Linked DNA regions of Homo sapiens: region 2 is linked to region 1. The links come from fine-mapping of genetic effects on gene expression. Tissue or cell type: whole blood. Region 1 holds a variant in brackets; the other region holds the start of a gene. All regions are shown on one strand. Distances are from middle to middle. Region 1 has its middle 25 kb from the start of JARID2-DT. Region 2 holds the start of JARID2 (jumonji and AT-rich interaction domain containing 2).

The links.
Region 2: it holds the start of JARID2, and the variant in region 1 is fine-mapped to the expression of JARID2 in whole blood (TOPMed, PIP above 0.99).

Annotation. Positions count from the first base shown.
Region 1 is chr6:15,217,657-15,223,026 of GRCh38, forward strand. No RefSeq gene overlaps it. Among named protein-coding and RNA genes, the nearest start is that of JARID2-DT, 25 kb to the right of the region's middle. The variant G/T (reference allele first, on the strand shown) is at 2,215.
Region 2 is chr6:15,243,639-15,249,008 of GRCh38, forward strand. It overlaps JARID2 (jumonji and AT-rich interaction domain containing 2), which reads left to right and starts at 2,431. Exons shown (of 18, transcript NM_004973.4): 1 at 2,431-2,946. The coding sequence starts at 2,902. JARID2-DT (JARID2 divergent transcript) reads right to left here and starts at 1,736. Exons shown (of 1, transcript NR_187237.1): 1 at 285-1,736. It overlaps JARID2-AS1 (JARID2 antisense RNA 1), which reads right to left and starts at 5,058. Exons shown (of 2, transcript NR_120502.1): 1 at 4,872-5,058; 2 at 4,177-4,506. RefSeq lists enhancers at 546-1,059, 2,249-2,298, 2,409-2,508 and silencers at 1,059-1,368, 1,379-1,638, 4,624-4,683, 4,804-5,283.

The sequences.
Region 1 (5,370 bases):
AAAACTATAACCTCAGACAATGTATCACTTCAAGGTTTCATTTTATCCCAAGTCATATCATCATGAACACCAATTATTGTCCCTTTGGAGACAGCTGAGATAGGAGAAATTTAAGAATCAGAGCATATGAAACAAAGCTTTTAGAAGATAACATCTGCTGGGCAAGATCAGGGATGATATAAGGGAAGAATAAAAATTATGAGTCTTTCTCTAACAGTCCAAGCATGAAAAAATAAAGATAAAAATAAGTAAAAATTTTAAAAAATGATCAAGTCCAAAACGAATATTCCATAGGTTTTTGGGTTTTTTTTGAGACAGTCTCACTCTGTCGCTCAGGCTGGAGTGCAATGGCAGGATCTCCGGCTCACGGCAACCTCCACCTCCCGGGTTCAAGCAATTCTCCCAGCCTCAGCCTCCCAAGTAGCAGGGATTATAGGCACCTGCCAGCACGCCTGGCTAATTTTTGTATTTTTAGTAGAGACAGGGTTTCCCTATGTTGGCCAGGCCGGTCTCGAACGCCTGACCTCAAATGATCCACCCACCTTGGGCCTCCCAAAGTGCTGGGATTACCGGCATGAGCCACTGTGCCAGGCCCCTCATTAAGTCTTGAGTAGGAATAAACCTATCCCAGCTCTGAGGCATAGACCTTAATTGGCATATATAAATCAGTTTAAAGTTACCTACTCCTCTGCCGCAGTAATTGGGTGATGTATGGATAATAATCTAGACCCAAACCAGTTAACTCGTAGTATTTGCTTAGAGTAGTTCAGGGATGAGCCAATCACTGTCAAAGTACAAACTGGCCTGGTGCGGTGGCTCAAGCCTGTAATCCCAGCACTTTGCGGGGCCGAGGGGGCGGATCACCTGAGGTCGGGAATTCGAAACCAGCCTGACCAACATGGAGAAACCTGACTCTACTAAAAATACAAAATTAGCCGGGTGCGGTGGTGCATGCCTGTAATCCCGCTACTCAGGAGGCTAAAGCAGGAAAATTGCTTGAACCGGGGAAGCGGAGGTTGCGGTGAGCCGAGATCGCGCCGTTGTACTCCAGCCTGGGCAACAACAGTGAAACTCCGCCTTGAAAAAAAAAGAAAGAAAGAAAGTACAAACTGTTGGATGATTATGGAGAGCAGTGCTTTCTCCCCTTTCAGAGTAAGCCCTGGTTGCTGTAGGCGACAATCTTGCAGAGGAAGGAAGCCTGCTGAAGACAGGTGAACCACAGGTGGTGGGGGCTGGATCACAGGTGTGAGCCACCACACCTGGCCTATTCCATAGTTCTAACCTTCATTCAGTTGGCTAGTCATTCATTTATCAAATATTAAATAGCACATGCTGGCCAGGCGCAGTGGCTCTCACGCCTGTAATCCCAGCACTTTGGGATGCTGAGGTGGGTGGATCACTTGAGGTCAGGAGTCTGAAACTGGCCTAACCAACATGGTGAAACCCAATCTCTACTAAAAATACAAAATTAGCTGGGCGTGGTGGCACATTCCTGTAATCCCAGTTACTCAGGAGACTGAAGCTGGAGAATCACTTGAACCCAGGAGGCAGAGTTTGCAGTGAGCCGAGATCTCGCCATTGCACTCCACCCTGGGCGACAAGAGCAAAACTCCGTCTCAAAAAACAAAAACAAAAACAAGACTAGGGCATGTTAGGCTGGGTGCGGTGGCTCATGCCTGTAATCTCAGCACTTTCAGAGGCCGAGGTGGGTGATCATCTGAGGTCAGGAGTTCGAGACCAGCCTGACCAACATGGAGATACCCTGTCTCTATTAAAAATACAGGCCGGGCGCGGTGGCTCACGCCTGTAATTCCAGCACTTTGGGAGGCCAAGGTGGGCGGATCATGAGGTCAGGAGATCGAGTACATCCTGGCTAACATGGTGAAACCCCGTCTCTACTAAAAATACAAAAAATTAGCCGGGCGAGGTGGCAGGCACCTGTAGTCCCAGCTGCTCCAGAGGCTGAGGCAGGAGAATGGCGTAACCCAGGAGGTGGAGCTTGCGGTGAGCTGAGATGGCGCAACTGCACTCCAGCCTGGGTGACAGAGCAAGACTCCTTCTCAAAACAAAAACAAAAACAAAAAATTAGCTGGGCATGGTAGCTCATGCCTGTAGTTTTGGCTACTCGAGAAGCTGAGACAGGAGAATTGCTTGAACCTGGGAGGCGGAAGTTGCAGTGAGCTGAGATTGCGCCACTGTACTCCAGCCTGGGAA[G/T]TTGAGACTCTGTCTCAAAAAAAAAAATTAAATTAAAAAAAAAAAAAAAAAAAACTAGGGCATGTTTCAGCTATCTATAGCTGTGTAACAAACCATGTCAAAATGATGCCAAAATCTAGTGGTTTAAACACTTGACAGAGATGGGTCTTCCTTCCTCCAGATGGTGCTCGCTGGAGTGGCTTGACAGGCCTTGGAGAATCTGAAGTCACTGGCAGAATGTTCACTATGACTTCATTCACTTCTCTGATGCCTTAGGTGGCTGCAATGTGTGAAGGCTGGCTGGTCCCCTGCATCTTCACCTGATCTCTTACCATCCAGTAATCTGGCTCAGAGCCTCTTTTTTTTTTTTTTTTTGAGACAGGGTCTTGCTCTGTTGCCCAGGCTAGAGTGCAATGGCATGATCTTGGCTCACTGTAGCCTCAAACTCCTAGGCTCAAGCAATCCTTCTGCTTTAGCCTTCCAAGTAGCATACAGGTATGCACCACTACACCTGGCTATCAGACGACTTTACATGGCAGCTGATGGACAAGAGAAGGAAAAGGAAGTTGGGCTTCTTTTTTTTTTTTTTTTTTTTTTTGAGATAGAGTCTCGCTCTGTTGCCCAGGCTGGAGTGCAGTGGTGCCATCTCGGCTCACTGCAACCTCTGCCTTCCAGGTTCAAGCGATTCTCCTGCCTCAGCCTCCTGAGTAGCTGGGATTACAGGTGCCCACCACCACGCACAGCTAATTTTTTTGTATTTTTAGTAGAGACGGGGGGTTTTACCATGTTGGCCAGGCTGGTTTTGAACTCCTGACCTCAAGTGATCCACCCACCTGGGCCTCCCAAAGTGCTGGGATTACAAGCATGAGCCACCATGCCTGGCGAAGCTGGGCTCTTAACACCTGGGTTTAGAAGTCCCAGAATATTACCCTCACCACACTCTGTTGGTAAAAGCAATTTACAGACCCAGACTCAAGAGGAGGGGATCCTGCACCAGAGCTCCCCACTCTAAAAAAAAAAGGCGGGGGAGAGGAAATGGATTCCATCCGTTCCTGTTCACAGAAAGAATAATTTGTTGGTGGCTGTCCTCACAGATGATCCACCGAAGTGCTTAGCTAGGATTGCATGGTGGGAAGACCAATCTTTTCCCTGGGGAGGATGGATTGTAGCCAGGCAAGAGGCAGAAAGACCAGTTTGGAGGGTGTTGCAGTGGGACAAGTAATAGTTGAAAGTCTAGGCTAATGAAGGTCTAGGTTAAAGAAACAGAAGTGGATGGGTTTGAAAGGTGCTTTATAAAAAGAAAAATCGCCGGGCGTGGTGGCTCACGCCTGTAATCCCAGCACTTTGGGAGGCCGAGGCAGGCGGATCACAAGGTCAGAAGGTTGAGACCATCCTGGCTAACACGGTGAAACCCCATCTCTAATAAAAATACAAAAAATTAGCCGGGCGTGGTGGTAGGTGCCTGTAGTCCCAGCTACTCAGGAGGCTGAGGCAGGAGAATGGCGTGCACCCGGGAGGTGGAGCTCGCAGTGAGCCAAGATCCCACCACTGCACTCCAGCCTGGGCGACAAAGCGAGACTCTGTCTCAAAAAAAAATAAAAAAATAAAAAATAAATAAATAAAATAAAATAAATAAGAAGAATCAGGTGACTGATTGGCTGTTGGTGCTAGGGAGAATATGGGGAGGGAAGAGCCAAGAGGGACACCAGTGTTCCTACTTTCATTATTATTATTATTTTATATAAAGATGGGGCTTTGCTACATTGCCCAGGCTGGTCTTGAATTCCTGGACTTAAGCGATCCTCCTGTCTTGGCCTCCCAAAGTGCTAGGATTACAAATGTGAGCCACCAAATTCAACCCAGGGTTCCTACTTGATTTCAGAGCAGCTGCCCTTTGTTCTGTCAAATCCCTACATAACAAAGTCATTTTTATTCCTAGATGAATGTTATTTTTCAGCAATGCTTCAACTCTGCTAAGCAAGTTCTTTAGGTGAGGTTAGCTTGACCCCAAGAAATCCAAGTTAAATTTATTGTGCTTAAAAAGGGTCAGTCAGGGAGACTCTACATCAGTCAGGGAGACTGCAGAGTCAAGGAGGCCACGTGGCTGGTGGCTTTAAAAAGTTTGCTGAGAGCTGAAGAGGTCAGCTGGCCCCATTCCAACCTGCTCTACTCATGGAGAGGAGTCCCATGGAGAGGAGTCAGGCCAGGCTGTTCTGCCCTGTCTTGACCCTGCACTGCAGGGCTGTCTCCACTCCGGAGATCAGGAAAGTCAGACAGACCTATGTTCTCTCTGACAGGTAGCCACAGCCACCAGCTGGAGTAGGACTTAAAGTGACTGAAAGACTAAGAGGCTGCAGAAACCTTAGTGCCTGTCCCCAGAGAGCAGCATCTGTTTAGAAAGTTTTTTCTTTCAGAAGCTGAGCCGGGATGGTTCGGGATGAGAGAGCCGTGATTCTAGTCAGACGGGTCAATCAGGAAGCCCTGATTCTTGGAGTAAGAACTCTGTGGAAAAACAAAAGTGCAGCCAAGCAAGTGAGGTTCCTGTCTCCCCTCACCTGCAGCCAGTGATTGCAAGAATGGAAGGCTGGGTGGGACAGCCCCGGGGAGCATCTCTTCACCACTGATGCTTGTCCCTTTAAAATCTGGAGCAAGGCCGGGCGCGGCGGCTCACGCCTGTAATCCCAGCACTTTGGGAGGCCGAAGCGGGTGGATCACGAGGTCAGGAGATCGAGACCATCCTGGCTAACACGGTGAAACCCCGTCTCCACTAAAAATACAAAAAATTCTCCGGGCGTGGTGGCGGTCGCCTGTAGTCCCAGCTACTCCGGAGGCTGAGGCAGGAGAATGGCGTGAGCCCGGGAGGCGGAGCTTGCAGTGAGCAGAGATCGCGCCACTGCACTCCAGCCTGGGCGACAGAGCGAGACTCCATCTCAAAAAAAAAAAAAAAAAAAAAAAGTTAAAAAAAAAATCTGGAAAAACTCAGCTGTTTATTGATCCCTCAGGCTCTGGGGTAATTTCCAGTCGTACAAATAGATGCACCTAGATCTTGGGAAAGACCCACAACTGGGCTGAGGTGTTTTTGTAGTTGTTGGTTGGTTGGTTGTTTTTTTGAGATGGAGTTTCGCTCTTGTTGCCCAGGCTGGAGTGCAATAGCGAGATCTTGGCTCACTGCAACCT
Region 2 (5,370 bases), 26 kb after region 1:
GGTATCTGCGTTAAACTTACAGAAAGCTGGTTAAAATCTTAACAACGTGGAGACGTGGAGATTCCCAGTATGCCAGTCCTAATGATCAGAAAGTTTTTAGAAAACACCTTGGGTGGCCCTACTGTAGTCTGCCCCATTGGATCCTTCCCAGGAAATGGCACCAGCGTACAAGTTTTGCAGTATTCAGGGCACAAAAGATCATTTATTTTTCCAATTGTGAAGTGAACATTAGATAAAATTATTTCATTTCAGATTTTTTGAAAAGGTAAAAATAATAAGGAAAATACCCTCTCGAAAAGGCTTTTTATTTCGTTTACTGAAAGCTTCCAATAACGTGCCTAGTTTTAAACTAGGTTACTGTTATTTATCACATAATCATCCCCACAGGTTTGATCACCACTAATTTGCAGATGCGGAAACTGACAAGCTCAGAGAGGCTCTCGGTTGCCTTTTGGGAAGTGGCCAAGGCGCGATTTGAATCCAGGTCTCTTACCTCCAGTTTCTGAGACCTTTCTAGACACCAAGGTTATCTCTTCAAATACTGCTGCAAGTAAACAGCTGTGTGAGTATCTAGACTTTTGAAGTTAGCAGACTCTAGGGAATAGGTAGAATAAAATATATGGGTATGTGTTCGCGGGAGCGCTTCTGCCACGTTTTATTCCGAGGCTAGCCTGAGAGATCATGGAAAACATTGCTTCTCCAAAACCACAGCGAAAAACAAGGAAATTAACAAGGCAGAATCGCGATGCGAGACTTGACAAAGTTGTTAATAAGGCGAAGGCCCAAAGCGCTATGCCAGGGCCTGCTACTTCATTTGTTTCAGCGATTAAACCAGCACGACAGGGGGCTGGAGGCAGGTAAAAAGCAGGCTCTTGCGTGGCCCGGACAGTTGATATTCCTGGCACTCGGTGTTCGAGATGTTTCCTTACAATTGCGTGTCTGTGCGGCTCGGTCTCCATATTCCACTCATTTTTGTCTCAACATTTTGTGGTATTTTATCACAAAATACGCCCGGCAAAGCAAAGATCCCGTTCAGTCTCTTTAAACACGGCTATCTTTTCTCAGGAGGCAGCCGCCGGGGCTTCACTCCTGGGCCACCAGCGACGTCCTCCAAGCGGGTCGAGCGGAGGCGCGTTCGCGACCCAGGGGCAGCGTGCCGAGCCCGGGCGTGGGGGGGCGTGGCCTTTCCACTCGGCGACCCCCGGCCACCGCCCACCCCGCGCGTGGGGGCGTGCGCGACTGCGGGGCGCGGAGAGGGGTGACCTCGGACTACCCTAGGCGCCCGCAGCACGCTCTGTACACAGACGCGAGGCGCTGTCCTGAGGTGACACCGGCTGCACGGCACAAGCAGCAGGCGCCGCCGATCAACTAGTTCGCACCGAGGATTCCTCTTGGTGCGTGGCCCAGTTTTCCTTAGGACGGGCTCCAACCCCTCCCTGACACCGCCCCCCTCACCGCCACGCTCCGAGGCCTTCCCCGGGGAAGCCTCGCGTCCCTCCCCCGCGGCTCCGGGCCGCACGCGCGCGATTCCTCGATTCCACAGGCGGTTCGCGCCGCGGGTGGGGGCGGGGCGCGCGGGGAGGGGGCTGGCGGCCGCCAGGGGAGGGGGGCCGGGGCCCGGGGGGCGGAGGAGGGCCGGCGTGGGGAGTTCCTCGCTCGCGGACCACACGCTCCGCGGGCCAATCCCGAGCCAGCCTCTAGCAGTGTCGCACGCGGGACACGTCCAAGCGTTTGTTGGCACGGCCAGTGAGGGGGAGGGGGCGAGGAGGAGGGAGGGGAGTTGAGTGACAGGCTTTGCGGGGCAGGCTGGGAATTGTAGTTCCCAGCTTCCGTGGCCATAGCCATTTTGTAGTCGGGGGACTACAACTTCCAGAAGATCAAGGGGACCATTCTAAGGTGCCCCGGGAATAGGCGGCTCTCCCCGGGGCCGGGCGTCCTGGGGCACTCCTACCCAGCAGCCCGGCTGCAGGTAGACGCGAAGGCAGTGGCGGGGGCTGGCGTGGGGCGGCCGTGGGGTGAGCGGCAGGCAGGGGAAAGGGGGTGAGGTGGAGCGACGGAGCGTGCCATGCATTGAGCTAGGGAGCCTCTCTCAATTCCACGCCTGGGCTCGGCGTGGGAGCGACGCCCGAGGGCTTGCCTGGGAGGGGTTCGTCGAGGTCGCTCGGGTGTCTGGTTGGCCAGGCTGCGGGGGTGCCCTGGACTGGGCCAGGGGCGGTCGGCACCAGGCTAAGCGGGCGCCTGGCGGCTGAGCGGTGGGAGTTTTCGGCTGGCGCCCGGCGGGGAATTATCCGAGGAGCCCTAACTTGTATAAAAGCAGAGTCCATTTAAAGTTGGGCTGGATAGCCTCTCTCTCATTGGTTAGGGGGCTTGGAAAAAAGAGACTCGGCGAGCCCTCGCTGTGGTGCTGCCGCCGCCGCCGCCGCCGCCGCTGGAGTTGACTCTTCTGCTCGCACTGCTGCTGCAGCACAAACGTGACTTCCAACATTTTTTATTTATCTTTCCCTTTTCTTTTCCAAGATGTAACTACGGATCAGACACTAAGGACCTTCACGTTTCGCTGATGTAGTTTTTGGAGGAAAAAGGGGGGGGAGTGAAGGGCGTCGGTTTTTTTTTGTGTGTGTGTGTATGTGTTTCGGGGGAAATTTTCCATTATGAGTGTTTTACTAAAGTGAATTTTTTTTTGTTTGCTTCGTTCGTCTTTGGCTCTTTTTTTTTCCTTCCCAATTTCGGATTTATTTCAAGGCGAATCTGGCTTTGGGGGAAGAGGAAGAAAAGTCGGATTACAAGATCAACCACCACCAACAACAATAAAAACCACCAGGATATTTTTTTGCAAATTTCTGACGGCTTTAAATTCATGAAGCAATTGTCCCCTTTTGCAATCAGCATTTGGATCTCAGAATGAGCAAGGAAAGACCCAAGAGGAATATCATTCAGAAGAAATACGTAAGTGCTCCTAACAACACATCCTTTGACTTGCAGTTTTAAGCAATGGCTGTGAATGTCAAGTTTATAGATAATTCTGCCTCTGAAGGGTTTTAAACACAGCGTCCGATAAGGCTGTTTCTTTTTTTTCTGAAAGAGGGCTTTTCAAGCAAAGTGGTGTCTGCCTAGTTTGGTTGAAAAAACAGACTGGTGTAGAGATACCTCAAGTGAATAAATTGACCTCGAATGACACAACCATAATCTACTTTTAGATGAAAGGCAAGGGATTTTGGTGGAGCTTGAGGTGGGGGGTGGCTGCGGTAATGTAACTAAACTGCATTCTCAAGCGGATTTGGCCCCGTATTGCACTTTGCATGCAAATGAGCCTGTGTTATTATTATTAATGTTATTTGGAAAAATCGTGTAACGCATGTGTGTTGGAAGCCCTTTAAGTTGCGATCGAGGGTCCGATTATGGCGATCTTCTCTTTGCACTGGCACATCAAATTTAATGTCTGTGGTCGTTTTGGCTTATCTGGTTTGCAACATAAACCAGTTGGGAATCATGTTACAGCGAATGCATTTGTTGGGATTGACTTTAATAATGAGGCTGGTTTTGTTTAAAAAATTCATGGTTTCCAGTTGTAGGGGAAAAGGACACACACTATGGCTAATGTTTTTAAGTGTGTACGTGAATGCATATGTAAGTAACTACAAATAATTTCTCCCTGTTAACTGGGCTTCTGAAATTGGGTGATTATTCCTAGATTTAAATGGCTTGGAATAGTTAAATTTGTTTTGTGCATAGTACAGCTACGTTTTGATTGGCATGGGGAGTGTTTTTGTTTTGTGTGTGGTGGCTTTTTTTTTTTTTTAAGTTTGAGGGGAGGGAGGAAAGGGGGACCGAGGGATTAACCAAATATGCACTCGAGTGATCTGTGATTAGCTGCATGCTTTAAATTAAATAACTCTTTTTTTTTTTCAAAAAAGGCCAAATGAACATACCTTAGGAATAATGCAACGTAAGAGGAAAGTTTATTTAAGTTGGGTAGACAAATTGGTGTTAATATTTTCCCTTTTTGATCATTGTGGTGTGTGTAATGAGAGATGACCTTCGGGGCACTGGTTTTGTAAAAAAATATATTTAATGGAAAAGCTGAATGCCTCTTCAAGAGAGCTGATCCTTATCTAGACACGTCAACTTCAACTATGAAAGAAATGCAAGGTTAAATAATCAAGCCCAACTTAGAAAGCTGTTCCATAAAGAATTTAAGAATTAAAATACATCCGCATTGCAGAGGGCTGGGTAGAATGCAAAGGACTAGTTTAAACTCGGGCTGTAGAAACTGCACTGAGGCAACCTTGTCTTGGAGCGTGGACGCCTTCCCGGGGCACGTCCGTTTCGGATGCAGCCACAAAGCAAATGGGGTAGAACTTGGACGAGAACCGCACCCCGCCTCCCATTCCGGACCTCGTTGAGGTGGAGAGCAGCGTGGGGTGGGTTTTCTTTCTTATTGCGGGCGTTCAGCGGATCGTGTCTCCGAGTCCGGGCGTCCGGCTGCAAGCCCGTGGCTGGCGGCGGCTGCGGGAGGCACGGCACGAGTTAATGCACCGGGAGCAGAGCCGGTGTTCCCGACGTCCTCGAGCCGGCTGCGAAAGGGACGGCCCGCGGGGGTCGCGGCAGGCTGGGCCGGGGCTGGGCGGGCGGGCGCGCGCGCGCGGCCTATAGGGGGCATACTCCGGGCTCTAGGCGGGCGCGCGAGGCGGGCACCGGTCTACCCGGGCCGGCTTGCAGGCGGGCAGGAGGGCGGGTGGGGCGCGGGGGTGGCGCGGCCTGCGGGGCGCGGGGAGGGGAGAGCGCGCGGGGAGGGGGTGGGAGCGGGGGCGGGGGCGTGGGCGTGCCGGGGAGGGGGCGCGCGGCGCACAGCTGCAGCGGGCGCCCCCCACCGCGCACACGGCCGAGCATGGCGGCGGCGGCCCGGCCGGCTTCCCGCGGCCCTGCCTGCGGGCTCCGACGCAGTCTCGAGAGCAACAGGTTAAGCCGGCGAGACGTCAGCGCGCCCCCTCTCCGCCCCCCGGTTCTTCCCCCGCCGCGCGCCGGCGCCCCAGCCCTTCTTCCCTCCCTCCGCCCCCCGCGGCGCTCGGTTCCCCGACGCTCCCGGCCGCACTCTGTTGTCATTGTGACGTCACAAAGGGACGGGCTCGGGTGGAACCTTCCCCTCCTCCTCCGTGACGTCAAAAGTCGGGCGGGAGGCTCCAGGCGCGGCGGGGCGGCGGGGGGAGGAGGGAGCTGGGCGGGGGCGGGGGCTGCCGCAGAGCCGGGCTGCGGCGTGGGAGGAGGAAGAGGAGGAAGATGCGCTCGGCCTCTGCCTTCCGCTCCGGAGCGTCGCGCTTCCCACCAGGTGAGGGCCGGGGAGCCGTAGGTCCCCAAAGGAGTGCCACTGGA